Homo sapiens: one gene and its partners. Changing the gene in region 1 together with any one later gene gives a genetic interaction. Each region holds a gene or a part of one and is shown in the gene's direction. Other genes may lie near its edges.

Evidence for each region.
Region 2: changes in RAD1 (region 1) and EGFR together harm fitness more than expected from each alone (negative genetic interaction), as found in Homo sapiens cells (one large-scale study listed by BioGRID).
Region 3: changes in RAD1 (region 1) and ATR are lethal when combined (synthetic lethality), as found in Homo sapiens cells (one large-scale study listed by BioGRID).
Region 4: changes in RAD1 (region 1) and RIT1 together harm fitness more than expected from each alone (negative genetic interaction), as found in Homo sapiens cells (one large-scale study listed by BioGRID).
Region 5: changes in RAD1 (region 1) and KRAS are lethal when combined (synthetic lethality), as found in Homo sapiens cells (2 studies listed by BioGRID, with this or other methods).

The regions. Positions count from the first base shown.
Region 1 is NC_000005.10:34,905,503-34,909,027, reverse strand, and holds part of RAD1 (cell cycle checkpoint protein RAD1), read left to right. Parts: intron 1-79; coding exon 80-263; 3' UTR 264-3,433; coding exon of another isoform or gene 3,434-3,497; 3' UTR 3,498-3,525. UniProt on the Homo sapiens protein: Component of the 9-1-1 cell-cycle checkpoint response complex that plays a major role in DNA repair. The 9-1-1 complex is recruited to DNA lesion upon damage by the RAD17-replication factor C (RFC) clamp loader complex.
Region 2 is NC_000007.14:55,197,010-55,200,534, forward strand, and holds part of EGFR (epidermal growth factor receptor isoform a precursor), read left to right. Parts: intron 1-1,707; coding exon 1,708-1,854; intron 1,855-3,306; coding exon 3,307-3,404; intron 3,405-3,525. UniProt on the Homo sapiens protein: Receptor tyrosine kinase binding ligands of the EGF family and activating several signaling cascades to convert extracellular cues into appropriate cellular responses.
Region 3 is NC_000003.12:142,561,709-142,565,233, reverse strand, and holds part of ATR (serine/threonine-protein kinase ATR), read left to right. Parts: intron 1-2,124; coding exon 2,125-3,002; intron 3,003-3,525. UniProt on the Homo sapiens protein: Serine/threonine protein kinase which activates checkpoint signaling upon genotoxic stresses such as ionizing radiation (IR), ultraviolet light (UV), or DNA replication stalling, thereby acting as a DNA damage sensor.
Region 4 is NC_000001.11:155,904,850-155,908,349, reverse strand, and holds part of RIT1 (GTP-binding protein Rit1), read left to right. Parts: intron 1-3,500.
Region 5 is NC_000012.12:25,230,408-25,233,932, reverse strand, and holds part of KRAS (GTPase KRas), read left to right. Parts: intron 1-3,525. UniProt on the Homo sapiens protein: Ras proteins bind GDP/GTP and possess intrinsic GTPase activity. Plays an important role in the regulation of cell proliferation.

The DNA.
Region 1 (3,525 bases):
TACTTTTTATCCTTTACTTGGGAGTTCTGAGCAGTGTTCACTGTGTTGATATAACAGCGTTTTATTTTTTCTTCTACAGATACAAGATTTCCTTACTGAAACCCTCTACAAAGGCATTAGTCCTATCTTGTAAGGTATCTATTCGGACAGATAACAGAGGCTTCCTTTCATTACAGTATATGATTAGAAATGAAGATGGACAAATATGTTTTGTGGAATATTACTGCTGCCCTGATGAAGAAGTTCCTGAATCTGAGTCTTGAGTATGACAATTCACTGATATTTATGTGTACATTTATGATAGATGAAGTTCTTATTCTGAGTACAGTACTCTTTGTCATTTCATATTGGATTTTCTATAGAGAAGAAGCACAATGGGGAAGATAGGAGCAAGGTCATGTACCCTAATAGTTACTATGTTTTGTAAATCCATTTTGTAGAGGGCATGTAAATAAATGTTTTCCTGTAGTCATAGATTATTCAGGACTGTCCTTTAGTTCTGTCTTTTGAACTCATGGGAATAATTGTGAGTCAGCGTAACATTTCAAGAGTCTAAAGGTGGCCGGGTGTGGTGGCTTTAATCCCAGCACTTTGGGAAGCCGAGGTGGGCGGATCACCTGAGGTCAGGAGTTCGAGACCAGCCTGACCAACGTGGAGAAACCCCATCTCTACTAAAAATACAAAAAATTAGCCGGACGTGGTGGCACATGCCTGTAATGCCAGCTACTCGGGAGGCTGAGGCAGGAGAATTGCTTGAACCCGGGAGGCGGAGGTTGTGGTGAGCTGAGATGACGCCATTGCACTCCAGCCTAGGCAATAAGAGCAAAACTCTGCCTCAAAAAAAAAAAAAAAAAAAGTCTAAAGGCTTAAAGTTTGATGCAGCTACCTGAAATGATCTTTTATTTATTTATTATTAGAAAAAGCAAAGGCATATGGGCATTGCTTATTAGTTTGAATTCTAGAGACTAGATCTTAAAGTAGTGGTTCTCAAAGTGTTGTGCCCGCACCAACATCAGAATGGCCTGCAAACTTGTAGCAAACTCTGGGGAGGAGGCCAGCATTCTGTATTTTAACAAGCTTCCCTCAGGAGATTCTGATGCCTGCTAAATTTTGGGAACCACTGTTTTAAAGGAAACTTTTTTTTTCTTTAATAGCATTTAATTGTATGAGATGATTGCTTTTACATGTGATTTCCTTGCAAATGTTCTGAAGTTGAGGCATCACCAAACAAGTCTGAACAATTCTTTATGTGATTTATTTTTAAAGTAGACCTTTTGAAGAGATCTATGAATGGGATATAAAGCAATTTTCAGTGTTACAGGTTTTCTTCTTCTTCTCAAAACTGTTTGCTGTAAGTAACTGCAATCAGTACTTACTACTTTCCATTTGCTTATGAGTTTCTTGACAAATCAAGGTGTAGAAAACCAGTTATTAAGTGATTTTGTACTTTCCTGGTAGTTGTCACTAAAATAATTTTTGTGGCATATAAATATATTTAATAAAATGCAAAAATTATCTTCCTGTCTAGTAGAAAAAATTACATGAGTAAAGTGAAGCTTCTGTCTTTGTTACTGTACCAGGTGACAACAGCTGAGTGTCCCTCCATGGACAGTCACTATTGGCCTTTTGAGTGAGACAGTTCTTTAGGATAAAAACCTGTCATCCCATTGCAGGATTCATTTAGCCTTTCTGGCCCTTACCCACTGATGCTAGTCATTGTGACCACCCCACCTCCCCCAAATAAAAGTGTGCCAAACTATTCATTGTTGAGAACCATTCAATTGTATTCACCAAAATTGGAGGATATATTGGAATGCCCTACCTTAATATAGGTCACATAGCATTAGAGAAAATTGGTTTGGAGAGTATTACAGCAAAGTGTGCTGCAAGGAGGCTACTCCAGCACAATGGCAGGCACTGCTTCCCAGGCATATGGACAATTCTGGGAGGTGGCCAGGGTCAGCACCTGATAACTAGTAAGTGTCTCAATCTCAGCATACAAAATTTAGCAGTGACTACAAAAGAAGTTGGAATTTTCTAAAATGTTTGTATTCAAGAAGGAAACAAATGAATTTACTAAATGTTGTCAGAGTATTTTTTGTTTAGATAACCACCAAGAACAGAACAAACCTAAAAGATACTTGGGAAAATATCTAATCAGTCAACATTCTAAGGACTGTTAAATGTGAAATAGCATAGTTATTTTTTGTCTTTTGTTACTAGTGTGAACAAAGAACGGCGCCTAACATATAATGGGCATTTAGTAACTCTGTTAGATGAAAGACTCTCCAATTTCAGATTTTCTTTTAGCATCTTATTAGTCACTACTTAATTCTGATGATTTAGCTCTAAATTTATTTTGATCTCAGTTTTTTTATTTTTATTTTTGGAGACAAGATCTTGCTCTGTTGCCCAGGCTGGAGTACAGTTGTAGGATTACAGTTCACTCCAGCCTCAATCTCCTAGGCTCAAGCAATCCTCCCATCTCAGCTTCCCAAATAGCTACGACTACAGGTGCATGCCTCCATGCCCTGCTAATTTTTGTATTTTTTGTAGAGATGGGGTTTTACTATGTTCCCTAGGCTAATCTTGAACTCCTGAGCTCAAGCAATCCACCCGCCTCGGCCTCCCAAAGGGCTGGGATTACAGGCGTGAGCTATCATGCCTGGCCTAATGTATTTTTTAAAAGTTGAATCTAAAAAGAATTTAAAACAAATATAAATCAGCTCAGTAAGGATGGATATTTTTGTACATTTAAAACTATTATTTTAGGCCGGGAGTGGTGGCTCACACCTGTAATCCCAGCATTTTGGGAAGCCGAGGCAGGGGGATCATCTGAGGTCAGGAAGTTCGAGATCAGCCTGGCCAACATGGTGAAACCCCTACCTCTACTAAAAATACAAAAATTAGCTGGGTGTGGTGGTGGGTGTCTGTAATCCCAGCTACTTGAGAGGCTGAGGCAAGAGAATCACTTGAAACTGGAAGGCGGGGGTTGCAGTGAGCCGAGATTGCACCATTGCACTCCAGCCTGGGTGACAGAGCAAGACTCCGTCTCAAAAACAAAAAAAATTAAAATAAAAATTATTGTTTTAGCTGCATGTCTTCAGCTATTTAGAATTCAAAGACTAATGAATTGTTTCTAAGTCACCCTAACATCAAGGTACTTATTTTATAAAGAATTTCCTCCTTATTTGTGTTCTAATTGACCCAGGAATTTTTACTTTAATAAAAGTTTAACTTTATTTCCTATGGAAAATCACTAGGGGGAGTGCTCCCTCAGGCAGAGCAGGCGACACTTTGGTGCCACTACAAATTGATGTGTAGTATATAGAAGAATACAGTCTTATATTTAAAGACTTTTAGTTCTGTCTTTTTGAAGTTTATCTCTCTTTCTAGTAAAATGGTGCTTACTGTGAATGGATAATCTTTTTTTTCATTTTTCATTTGTTGATTTCCCATTCGATGATGTAGTGCTTCCACCGAGAATTGATGAAATGCTTCAAAATAATAAAAGTATTTGTTAAA
Region 2 (3,525 bases), on another chromosome or scaffold:
GTGAATTTTTAAATTGTATTTTCTAGTTCTGTGAAGAATCTCATTGGTAGTGTGATAGGAGTAACATTGAATCTATAAAATACTTTGGGCAGTATAGTCATTTTAATGATATTGATTCTTTCTATCCATGAGCATGGAATGTTTTTCCATTTGTTTGTGTCATCTCTGATTTCTTTAAGCAGTGTTTTGTGGTTCTTATTGTAGAGATCTTTCACTTTCCTGGTTTACTGTATTTCTAGGTATTTTATTCTTTTTGTGGCAATTGTGAATTGAATTGCATTCCTGATTTGGTTCTCAGCTTGACTGTTGTTGGCATATTGGAATGCTAATTATTTTTGTACATTGATTTTGTACAACTGAGTCTTCACTGAAGTTGTTTATCAGCTTAAGGGGTTTTGGGTCAAGACTATGGGGTTTTCTAGATATAGGATCATGTCATCTGCAAACAGAGATAGCTGTTTTCCTCTCTTCCTGTTTGGATGTCCATTATTTCTTTCTCTCACCTGATTTATCTGGCCAGGACTTCCAATACTATGTTAAATAGGAGTGTTGAGAGAGGGAATCCTTGTCTTGTGTCAATTTTCAAGGGGAATGTTTTCAACTTTTGCCCATTCAATATGATGTTGGCTGTGGGTTTGCCATAGATGGCTAATATGTTGAGGTTTGTTCTTTAAATACCTAGTTTATTGAGAATTTTAAACATGTTGAATTTTATTGAGAGCCTTTTCTGCATCTATTGAGATGATCATGTGGCTTTTGTCCTTAGTTCTGTTTGTGTGGTGAATCACATTTATTGATTTGCATATGTTGAACCAATCTTGCATCCCAGGGATGAAGCCGACTTGATTGTGGTGGCTTAAGCTTTTTGATGTGCTGCTGGATTCGATTTGCCAGTATTTTGTTGAGGATTTTTATGTCTATGTTCATCAGAGATATTGGCCTGAAGTTTTCTTTTTTTGTTGTATCTCTGCCAAGCTTTGGTATCAGGATGACATTGGCCTCATAGAATGAGTTAAGGAAGAGTCCCTCCTTCTCAATTTTTTTGGAATAGTTTCAGTAGGAATGGTACCAGCTTTTTTTGTACATCTTGTAGAATTTGGCTATGAATCCATCTAGTCTTAGGCTTTGTTTTGGTTGGTAGGCTATTTATTACTGATTCAATTTTGGAGCTCATTATTGGTCTGTTCAGGGATTCAGTTTCTTCCTGAGGTTTTTATTTTTATCAAATGGAACTTAAGCTTTTTCATTTCCAATTTTTTTATGATCTAAAAATGTGCAGTTTACAGCCCTGTTCAGAATCTGCATCTTCCTCATTCTGCAGATACAGGTCCCTCAGAGCAGGTGACTGAGTGTGTATCCTGTCTGGAGCATAATACTTATGCTAGTAGAGTTACTGTTGTCTTTATTGTTAATTACCAAAGTTTACCACTTATCAGTCACTTACTACTTGCTGGGCATTGCACTAAGCATTTCAGTTGTATTATCTTGTTGGGTCCTTACAGCAATCCTGTGAAACAGATACTGCTATTACCCCACTTTATAGAGAGGTAGACTGAGGCTTCCAGCATTGAAGCAAATTGCCCAAGACTACAGAAATGTAGGTTTCTAAACATCAAGAAACAGTAACCAGTAATGATGACTAAAGCAAGGGATTGTGATTGTTCATTCATGATCCCACTGCCTTCTTTTCTTGCTTCATCCTCTCAGGGGTGACTGTTTGGGAGTTGATGACCTTTGGATCCAAGCCATATGACGGAATCCCTGCCAGCGAGATCTCCTCCATCCTGGAGAAAGGAGAACGCCTCCCTCAGCCACCCATATGTACCATCGATGTCTACATGATCATGGTCAAGTGTGAGTGACTGGTGGGTCTGTCCACACTGCCTAGCTGAGCCTTGGTGGCTGCTCTTAGCCAAACAGCTGAGGCCTTTGCATCCCTGGAGAAATGTCATCACATTACTTAAGGCAGGCACACAAATCCAGAAACATCTGTAAATACCCCTTCAAGCATTCTTTTAAAGACACTTCTTGACTCATTGGGCAGTATGACCTGACATTTGCCCATGTTTGCAAGCAAATAAATAAAACTAAAGTCTTCCGCAAGCCATTACACCAAAATATTCTATTCGCTGAGTTACTCAATGAAATACCGAGTTGCCCTATATTTTGAAGCCTGTTACCAGAGAGACTGAATGTTTTTAAATGCATGGCAGTGAGTAACAACATAAGGCTAATAGAGTCAACATTTCTGCTTTGACTTAAACCTTTTAAACCAGTGGATTTATGTGAAGTCTCTGCAGTGTGGCATTTAAACATTTCAATCTAAATAAGAGTGTGTAATTTGATTGATGCTATTATTCTACCAGATTCACGAGTGCAGTGGGCTCTGGAGGTAGCATTACATGCATGGGATGAGCATTTGCAAAAGAAAGTTGTATAGGGAATATGACAGAGCCAAGTTAATGTAAATATTAATGCCTTTCTGAACTCTAGGCCACAGAGTTGATCTTTTTTAACTTCCTTGGTTTGGGCTAAGGAAGCTGTGATCCAGAGAAGCCACGTGATTTGTCTAAGGTCACATAGCAGTCTGGCCTAAAATAGCTTGATATGCTGTGGATGGAAAATAAATGTGATCCCTCAAGAGGCATGAGGATTTCCAGGCAGTAGCCATACCTCCAAATTGTTTAATCTGGATTTAGATTGTTGGGTAGTCACATGCAGCAGCACAGTTAACAGTGTGTCCTCCTGTGGAAGTTGCCAGCACAGCCAGCCCTCTCACTTGCATGCATGCCCACCAGCCTTCTCACTTGCATGCATGCCCACTGGGTATGTGCTGTACTGGAGACGCCGGGGGTAGGGGCCCAGTCCCAACCCCAAATTCTTTAAAGCCTATTTTTCTAAGTTGCATCTGGTTTCCTACCTGAAGGAATGCTAAGGGTGGATGTTGAGTGAGGACCTTGGTGCAGGGCACCCTGCAGTCAGGATAGTTCATGGAGAGCAATTGTACAGACCCACACTGCTCCATCCCCTCAGGCGTAACACAGGATGCTGACCCCAGGAAGAGTGGGCGTAGAAAAACTAGAGGGCATTATTGTTATTCTGATTCAAATGTACAGTGCTGGCATGGTCTTTAAACAGTAACCAGTACTAGCTGGCCAAGACAGAAAAGTCTACCACAAAGACTTGGTTCTTTCATCACTTATTTGACTGGAAGTGTCGCATCACCAATGCCTTCTTTAAGCAATGCCATCTTTATCATTTCTTCCAGTGTTCTAATTGCACTGTTTTTTCTCATTCCTTCCCCAGGCTGGATGATAGACGCAGATAGTCGCCCAAAGTTCCGTGAGTTGATCATCGAATTCTCCAAAATGGCCCGAGACCCCCAGCGCTACCTTGTCATTCAGGTACAAATTGCAGTCTGTGCTTCCATTGGGAAGAGTCCCTCTAATGAGCATCTCATGTCACTGTGTTCTGTCACATGCCAGCCTGGCCTCCCTGTGTCCCAGATCGCATTATTAAACCCTC
Region 3 (3,525 bases), on another chromosome or scaffold:
CTCTTAGTACTAAGTGTTCTGCATTTCATCTATCATAGAGGCTATTAAACTGTGCTCTAATCATTGGTTTGTCTATATTCTTTCCTACAGTAGTTTTTAAACTACAGGTCATAACCCACTAGTGGGTTATGAAATTAGGCAATTATCAGCATTTAAAACAAGATGAAATAAACTAGAAAATATCATAGGCTGGGCACGATGTCTCACGCCTGTAATCCCAGCACTTTGGGAGTTCGAGACCAGCCTAGGCAACATGGCAAAATCCTGTCTCTACCAAAACCAAACCAAACCAAACCAAAACAAAACAGAAAAACATTAGCTGAACATGGTGGCACATGCCTGTGGTACAAGCTACTTGGAAGGCTGAGGCACACTAATTGCTTTAGCCTGGGAGGCAGAGATTGCAGTGAGCTAAGACCATGCCGTTGCACTCCAGCCTGGGTAACAGAGTGAGAACCTGTCTCAAGAAAAAAAAAAAGAAAATATTATAGTACATTGTATGTAATAAGAGTAAGTACTATTTAATGAACCTTTTGTTTTAAATATTTAAATAAAATGCATGTATATGTACTGGGTCATGATATAAAATGTTATTTCTTTGTTGCAGTCAAAAAGCTCAAGAAACTGTACTGTGAGATTCATGAGGACAGGACTATGACTGATTTATTCTTGTGTACCTGAGACAGAGTCACCACTCAAATTTTAGTTGAAAGAATGACAATAGCTACCCTTTATTGAACATTTATTTTACTTTGGAACTGTGCTGAGTATTTCATGTGCATTTTCTTATTTGGTCCTCACAGTAACCCATAACATAGATAGCATTATTCTCCTTATACATGAAATTACAGAGGTTCAGAGAAATGAAAAGTTTATACAACTAGTAAGTGGAAAGCTAGGACCTTGCCTGTCTGACTCCAAAGTTGTTACAGGCATACCTCAGAAATATTGTGGGTTCAGTTCCAGACCACTACAATAAAGTGAATATTGCAATAAAGTAAGTCACATGAATTTTTTGGTTTCCCAGTGCATATAAAAGTTATGTTTACGTTGTACCTTAAGTGTGGAATAGCATTATGTCTAAAAAACAATGTATGTACCCTAATTAAAAATACTTTATTACTAAAAAATGCTAACGATTATATCATCCTTCAACAAGTTGTAATATTTGTGCTGGTGGAGTGTCTTGCCTTGATGTTGAGGGCCTTTCTCTGGATTAGGCTTTGGCTTAAGGGAATGTTGTGGCTGGTTTGATCTTCTTTTTTTCCTACTGGAAATTTCCTCATCTTTTAACGATTTGATCTTCTATTCAGAGTACAAAAACTTTCTCCATACCAGCAATAAGGCTGTTTCACTTTCTCATCAATGGTGCGTTCAGTGGAGTAGTACTTTTAATTTCCTCCAAAAACTTTTTCTTTGTTTTAACAAGTTGGTTGTTTGGTGAAAGAGGCCTAGCTTTCAACTTGTCTTGGCTTTCAACATGCCTTCCTCAGTAGGCTTAATCATTTCTAGCTTTTGATTTGAAGTGAGAGATGTGTGACTCTTCCTTTCATTTGAACACATAGAGGCCATTGTAAGGGTTATTAATTAACCTAATTTCAATACTGTGTCTCAGGGAATAGGGAGACACAAGGAGAGGGAGAGAGATGGGGAACTGCTGGTCGGTGGGTCAGAACACATACATTTATCCATTAAGTTTGCCACCTTATATCGGTGTGGTTCATGACAGCTCCAAACAATTACAATAGTAACATCAAACGTCACTGATCACAGATCACCATAACAGATACGATAATAATGAAAATGTTTGAAATATTTTGAGAATTACCAAAATGTGATACAGAGACATGAAGTGACCACATGCTATTGGAAAAATGGCACTGATACACTTGCTTGATGCAGAGTTACCACAACCTTCAATTTGTGACAAATGCAGTATCTGCAACGTGCAATAAAACTGGGTATGCCTGTGTTCTAAACTATTATGTTTCCATTGTGAAGAGAATGTTTTACACTCTTGTTAGTGAAGTTTATTCTTTAAAAGTCAATCGTCAAGGATTTAGCAAATGAATTAGCACTTCGGATATACTTGTTTATTTAATATCTTTTTTGTTTATTTCAAAGAATTCAGTAATTGGATCATAACGAGACTTCTGCGGATTGCAGCAACTCCCTCCTGTCATTTGTTACACAAGAAAATCTGTGAAGTCATCTGTTCATTATTATTTCTTTTTAAAAGCAAGAGTCCTGCTATTTTTGGGGTACTCACAAAAGAATTATTACAACTTTTTGAAGACTTGGTTTACCTCCATAGAAGAAATGTGATGGGTCATGCTGTGGAATGGCCAGTGGTCATGAGCCGATTTTTAAGTCAATTAGATGAACACATGGGATATTTACAATCAGCTCCTTTGCAGTTGATGAGTATGCAAAATTTAGAATTTATTGAAGTCACTTTATTAATGGTTCTTACTCGTATTATTGCAATTGTGTTTTTTAGAAGGCAAGAACTCTTACTTTGGCAGATAGGTTGTGTTCTGCTAGAGTATGGTAGTCCAAAAATTAAATCCCTAGCAATTAGCTTTTTAACAGAACTTTTTCAGCTTGGAGGACTACCAGCACAACCAGCTAGCACTTTTTTCAGCTCATTTTTGGAATTATTAAAACACCTTGTAGAAATGGATACTGACCAATTGAAACTCTATGAAGAGCCATTATCAAAGCTGATAAAGACACTATTTCCCTTTGAAGCAGAAGCTTATAGAAATATTGAACCTGTCTATTTAAATATGCTGCTGGAAAAACTCTGTGTCATGTTTGAAGACGGTGTGCTCATGCGGCTTAAGTCTGATTTGCTAAAAGCAGCTTTGTGCCATTTACTGCAGTATTTCCTTAAATTTGTGCCAGCTGGGTATGAATCTGCTTTACAAGTCAGGAAGGTCTATGTGAGAAATATTTGTAAAGCTCTTTTGGATGTGCTTGGAATTGAGGTAGATGCAGAGGTAAGTAATTTTTCAGGTTACTAGTTAAGTATGTATTTTGTTCATCATTTAATTGTATACATATGTGCAAAATGTAATAATAAGAAAATAGAATATCTTTAATAGTAATTTATATTTGGAACATAATGATTTTCATAGTGTAGTCTGGCTCACTATTATGGACTTTTACTTTGATTTCAGAAGGATTTGTTCATTAAGTTGGTAATGAACTGCCAATGGAGTAGAATGTTTCTAAGTAGAATCTGTGAAGTGTAAATGTATTTGTTGCATTATTAATTAAAAGGGGGCAGTTACCAACTTAATTGCAGAAGCTTTGGTCAATCAGATTATGTGTCTGACAAGTTATAATCAATCACTTTTAGAAAACCTATGAATGATTAATCATGCCAAATTATGCGCTTTTTTCTATTTGGACTGTGGGAGTCAGGTAATACAATAAAATCATCAGAGATGCAGTAACTTGATTAAATATTTTAGTTTATTAATCTTGCTGGATTAAAGTTACATGAAGAAAGTTGGTAAT
Region 4 (3,500 bases), on another chromosome or scaffold:
CTGAGTAGCTGGGACTACAGGGGCCCATCACCACGCCCGGCTAATTTTTTGTACCTTTAGTAGAGACAGGGTTTCACTGTGTTAGCCAGGATGGTCTCGATCTCCTGACCTCGTGATCTGTCTGCCTTGGCCTCCCAAAGTGCTGGGATTACAGGCGTGAGCCACCGTGCCCGGCCGCGTCTTTCCCTTTCTTTAAAGTAAAACTCAAATACTCGTCTCCTGTAAGAGTTATCTGTATTTTTTTTTTTGTTTTTTTTTTTTAGATGGAGTCTCACTGTCGCCCAGGCTAGAGTGCAGTGGCATGATCTCGGCTCACTGCAGGCTCCGCCCCCCCGGGGTTCATGCCATTCTCCTGCCTCAGGCTCCAGCGTAGCTGGGACTACAGGCACCCGCCACCTCGCCTGGCTAATTTTTTGTATTTTTAGTAGAGACGGGGTTTCACCGTGTTAGCCAGGATGGTCTCGATCTCCTGACCTTGTGATCCGTCCGCCTCGGCCTCCCAAAGTGCTGGGATTACAGGCGTGAGCCACCGCATCCGGCCAAGTTATCTGTTTTAATCAATTTTCCTCCAGTTAACTACTCTCCTGGCAATATTATCTGATTCAACAGCAAATACTTATGTCTTCTGAGTTTCTATTATGTGCCAAGCACTGCTTACCCTCAGGGTACAGTGGTGATCAAAAAGATGAGGTTTCTGTTCTTGAGTTTCTAATTTAGTGCATTTGATTTCAAGCTCTGGCTGTAAACTCAGAAAAACTTTACATTGTAACTGGTAGAGATATAAAAGCATACAAGGCCGGGTGCGGAGGCTTACGCCTGTAATCCTGAGCCTGCAATCCTGTAATCGAAGCACTTTAGGAGGCCAAGGCACCTGAGGTCAGGAGTTCAAGACCAGCCTGGCCAACATGGTAAAACCCCATCTCTACTGAAAATACAAAAATTAGCTGGGCGTGTTACTGCTGCATGCCTGTAATCCCAGCTACTCAGGAAGCTGAGGTGGGAGAATTCCTTGAACCCAGAAGGCAGAGGTTGCAGTGAGCCGAGATTGCACCACTGCACTCCGCCCTGAGCGACAGAGTGAGACTTTGCCTCAAAAAAAAAAAAAAAAAGCATATGAATGTGTGCATATGTATATATAAATTATATACACAAGCGCATGTGTATGTGTAGCTAAAATATTATGAAACTTTACCTCACTACATCTGGTGCACTCTGATATTTTCTTTTCTTTTCTTTTTTTTTGAGACAGGGTCTCACTCTGTTGCCCATGCTGGAGTGCAGTGTTGTGATCTTGGCTCACTGCAGCCTGGACCTCCTGGGTTCAGGTGATCCTCCCGCCTCACCCTACCAAATACCTGGGACTGCAGGCGTAGGCCACTAAGCCCAGCTAATATTTTTGGATTTTTAGTAGAGATGAGGTCTCGCTCTATTGCCCAGGCTGGTCTCAAACTCCTGAGCGCAAGTGATCCTCCCACCTGGACCTCCCAAAGCACTGAGATTACAGGCGTGAGAGCCACTGTACCTCACCCACTCTGGTATTTTCTTTCTTTTTTTTTCTTTTTTTCTTTTTTTTTTTTTTTTTTTTTTGAGACGGAGAATTTCACTCCTGTTGCCCAGGCTAGAGTCCAGTGGCACAATCTTGGCTCACTGCAACCTCCACCTCCCAGTTCAAGCGATTCTCCTGCCTCAGCCTCCCAAGTAGCTGGGATTACAGGCGCCTGTGACCACATCCAGATAATTTTTGTATTTTTAGTAGAGATGGGGTTTCACCACATTAGCCAGGCTGGTCTTGAACTCCTGACCTCAGGTGATCCACCCGCCTCAGCCTCCCAAAGTGCTGGGATTACAGGCATGAACCACTGTGCCTGGCCTGGTATTTTCTATTTTTATTTAGGTTTCTGCTTGTTTATTTTAATGCTGGTCCCGGCCCATTAAGTAGATTTCACAACTCACTAATCCTAATGAATAATTGAGAAGCATTGATTTAATGAGCTCTTCATCTTTGAGGAAGAGACAGAAGCAGGAATTCAAGAAAAAATGTTAAAAGGAAATACATTGAGATGTAAGCAGCAGTTGTTAAGTGAATGAAATATTGCGTGGCTTTTTTTTTCTTTTTAGTTTTCTATATTTTCCAAGGTTACTATAGTAATATGCATAAAGAAATTTGCTTTCAGAAAAGAGAAATTACGAAACTGTGGATTATTTAGAAAATAGTCAGTTAGACCGGGTGCAGTGGCTCACGCCTGTAATCCCAACACTTTGGGAGGCTGAGGCAGGTGGATCATTTGAGGTCAGGCGTTCAAGACCAGCCTGGCCAACATGGTGAAACCCTGTCTATACTAAAAATACAAAAATTAGCCGGGCAATAGTGGCATGTGCCTGTAATCCCAGCTACTCAGGAGGCTGAGGCAGGAGAATCCCTTGAGCCTGGGAGGCAGAAGTTGTGGTGAGCCGAGATCATGCCACTGCACTCCAGTCTGGGTGATAGAGTGAGAGCCTGTCTCAAAAAAAAAAAAAATAGTGAATTATATATTTTTTTCCTTTTTTGTAGTATTGAGGAGGAAGTATAACACATGGTTAATAATGCTTTTCAGTTCAGCAATCTTGGATTTTAATCCTCATTCTGTCACTAATTAACTAATTTAGAGAAGACATTAATATTTTCAAGTTGAATTTTCTTTAGCTGTAAAATGGAGGTAATAATGCCTACTTCATTGGATTATTGTGATTATTGAAGAATTAATATATATAAGTTACTTAGTATAATGTCTGGTAGATAATAACAATTTAATAAATGGTAAAGTTACTTTTCAGGCCTAATTTTTTTTTTCCCCTAAGAGATGGGGTCTCGGCTGAGTGCAGTGGCCCACACCTGTAATACCAGCACTTTGGGAGGCCAAGGCAGGAGGATTGTTTCAACCCAGGAGTTCGAGACTAGCCTGGACAACATTGCAAAATCCTATGTCTACCAAAAATACAAAAAAATTAGCCAGACATGGTGGTAGCACGCCTGTAGTTCCAGCTACTTGGGAGGCCAAGGTGGGAGAATCACTGGAGCCTGGGAAGTCAAGGCTACAGTGAACCGAAATTGCACCACTGCACTCCAGCCTGGGTGACAGTGAGACCCTGTCTCAAGAAAAAAAAAAAAAGATGAGCTGTTGCTGTGTTGCCCAGGCTGGTCTTGAACTCCTGGGCTCAAACAATACTCCTGTCTCAGTCTCCCAAGTAGCTGGGATTATAGGCAGTCACCACTGTGCCCAGATAGCCTAATTTTTTTAAGAAAGACATCTTCTCAGAATCCTTTTTTAGCTTAGAATTGTAGGTGAAATCTTCAGCTGTGAATAAACTACATCATCACCTATGTGGAAAAAAAAACTTCAGTTGAAGACTCAGTTTATGTATCTCAGTGGATTTAGCATGCTTCCTGAGAAAATGTGGGCATTTAATGAATTTGGATACAATGTACTACTCTGTAAGATGAGTTTTAAATAGGCATTTCT
Region 5 (3,525 bases), on another chromosome or scaffold:
GAGAAGGATTTGTATTATATAATTGAAAAATCTGTTAAATTGTATTTATGTTAACTGCTTAATTCTAATAAAATTTCCATTCATTTTTTAGTATCTGCATATATTTACATCAAATGGATTCATTCACTTATTTAAGAGGCAGTACTAATTACCTATAGCGTTCAAGACTGTTAGGTAGAGGGTGTGTAGTGGTGAGTACAACAGGCGTGAGCCCTACCAACACGGAGTTTAAAGCCTAGTAGAGGATATAGACTTAAACAATTTCACAAGTAAATACATAATTACAAATTATAATACATGCTATGAAGGAAACATAGGAGGTACCAGAGAAGGAAGAGTGCTTTGCATTTTTATTTTTAAGACCGAAGAGTGCTATTGGAGGACTTTGAGCAAGTGAATGACATGATCTAACCTACCTTCGTTCATTCATTCATTCATTCATTTTCTTCCTTCCTGGCTCAAGCAGTCCTCCCACCTGAGCTCCCCAAATAGCTGGGACTACAGGTACACACTACCACACCTAATTTTTTTTTGTATTTTTTGTATTTTTGATGGGATTTTACCATGTTGGCCAGGCTGGTCTTGAACTCTTGACCTCAGGTGATCCACCTGTCTCGGCCTCCCAAGGTGTTGGGATTATAGGTGCCTAGCCCATGGTGCCTAGCCCTAACCTACATTTATAAACTATCACTTGCTGCTGTGTGGAGACTATATTGTGAGATTAACAGCAGGGATACCTGCTAGGAAGCAATTGCTGCAGATTGCCTGAGACAAAATAGTTATCATGGACTAGGGGGATGGTGGTGGTGGTGGTGGTAGGTGGTTGGATGTAGGATATATTTTGAAGATAGGTAAATGGTGCAAGATTATGGGTCAGTTTTAAATGCTTAAGTAAATTTTCTTTGTAAGACATTTTAGGATGCCATGTTAAGAATCTCTTTATAACTGTCATTTAAAAAAAAACCACATATTTTCTTAGCATAATTTCCCATAGTAACATTACTATGTCAAAGGCTATGAACATTTGAATGACTTTAGATAAATACTGTAATTGCTTTCCAAAAATATTGTGCTTATTATGTCACCAGAAATGTTTGAATTCTGTCTACAATTCAGTCTTGCCAGTATAGTACATTTCATTTAGAAAAATTTTTTACTATGTAGATGGAAAAAATAATATTTTAGCTGGGAGTGGGGGGACTATGGGGAATAACTTTCCTTCATTTAATATTTTATTGTGAGTTAGTTTAAGTTACTTTATTTTATCGTAGTTTCCTAAGGCTACAAATTAGTAACCTTGGTAACTTATGTACCTAATTTAAAAGTTTACTTTTTTGAAAGGCTGGAAATACTAATTAAAAACGTAACACCTTCATCCTTGTCTTTGCTCCATTATTAACTAGTTTCATTACAGAATCTCTGTGTTTTAAAATCAGATGGGTTTTCATAACCAGTACTTTCTCAGAGTGGTAAATTTAAAAAAATATATAAAGAGAATAAATAATATTTGTTGAGAATACTTCAAATAATGTGAAGAGTTATTAACTTACAGCAGGAGTTGGCAAACTTTTCTATAAAGGGCCATATGGGTCTTTGTCACAAAGTCTTGGGTTTTTGTTTTTGTTTTTTTAAACAGCTATTTAACTATTCCTAGCTAATGGGCAATACAAAAACAGTGGGCAAGATTTGGCCTGTGGGCAGTAGCTTGCTGAAACCTTATTTAGACTCTAAATTTTTTGAAAGAGTCTACATTGATGCATATTTTTTTTTCTTCCTCCAAATACAGTTGACCCTTGAACAACATGCGTTTGAGTGACCATGGGTCCACTTGTGATACACGTTTTTTTCCCAACCAAATGCAGATATGGAGGGCTGACTTTTCATATACCTGGATGTTCCTGGGCCAACTGTAGGACTAGAGGCTGGGGGGGTCTTGGAACCAATGCCGTGTGTATACCAGGGATGACTGTTTCTTATGGCCTGACCTGAAGTTGGAACAGAATCTTTATTAATATATAATTTTTGTTGCGTTTGTTTTCTCTTTATATTTATCCATTCTTTTTAGATCGTATTTCATTTAACACTTTTTCTTCTTTAGTTTTTACCAAGTTGCACTGAAAATAGCTCAGTGACTAATTGCACTTCTAAGAGTGAGGACCCTAGTTAAAATTAACTCTAAAAATACTGAATTTTTAACCTAAACCTTTTATTTCTAATCAACAGTATTATTTATGAGTAGGTTATAGATTACTTTGAAACGGAATGTGTCTCAGAACTTTGCTATCGATATTTTTAAGGTCTGGTAGGGAAAAGATAATAGGAATGAGATTTATCAGTGAATAGGGGACTGCTTTCCCAGTTTCTCGGTCGCACTGGTGTATTCACCATGGAAGCATCTTATGAAATATGTACATAAACTACTAATATCCCACATTACAGGTTGACTATTCTTTATCTGAAATGCTTAGGACCTAGAAGTATTTTTGGATTTTGGTTTTTCAGAGTAGGGATACTCAGCCTACATTGGTAAGTAAAGAATGTGAGGTGACAGGCTGGGCGCGATGGTTGACGCCTGTAATCCCAGCACTTTGGGAGGCCGAGGCGGATCACCTGAGGTCAGGAGTTGAAGACCAGCCTGGCCAATCTGTACTAAAAATACAAAAATTAGCTGGACACAGTGGCACGTGCCAGTAGTCCCAGCTACTCAGGAGGCTGAGGTAGGAGAATCGCTTGAACCTGGGAGGCGGAGGTTGCAGTGACTCGAGATCGTGTCACTGCCCTCCAGCCTAGGCAACAGAGCAAGACTCCATCTCAAAAAAAAAAAAAAAAAAAAAAAAAAAGAATGTGAGGTGGCAGCAATAGGTAGGAAGAGTCTTTGGTCAGCTTTACATGCTCTGTAGCCATGCCTGGGTAATGGGTTGACTCTAAGACTCTGTGCTTTGCTCCCACCTCCTGCTTTTTCATTACTCTTTAGAATGGTTTTTAATTTGTGATCTATAGGAGTTCTTTCAAGTATTTAATAAGAGAATAGGCTAAATTAAGTAAATGTCAACTGAATGCTCAAATCTCTACTAAAGAGCCTCTTATTTAGAAAATAAATATCCATCTTTTTTTTCTGACTGGTGAGATAATTAATTTTTATTACAGATGGTTTGGAAAATACCATATGCTTTAAAAGATAAGCACAAAATTATAGTCTAATATGTAGGTTTTCATACTTTAAAAAATTGAAAACCAAAGAAAAACATTTAACATAGCATCTAGTACAAAGAAAAGAGATAAGCAAGAGATAAATGTCTTTTTTGGGACAGAGTTTTGCTGTTGTTGCCCAGGCTGGAGTGCAATGGCACAATCTCAGCTCACCGTAACCTCCACCTCCCGGGTTCAAGTGATTCTCCTGCCTCAGCCTCCCGAGTAGCTGGGATTACAGTCATGCACCACCAGGCCCAGGTAATTTTGTATGTTTAGTAGAGATGGGGTTTCTCCGTGTTGGTCAGGCTGATCTCAAACTCCCGACCTCAGGTG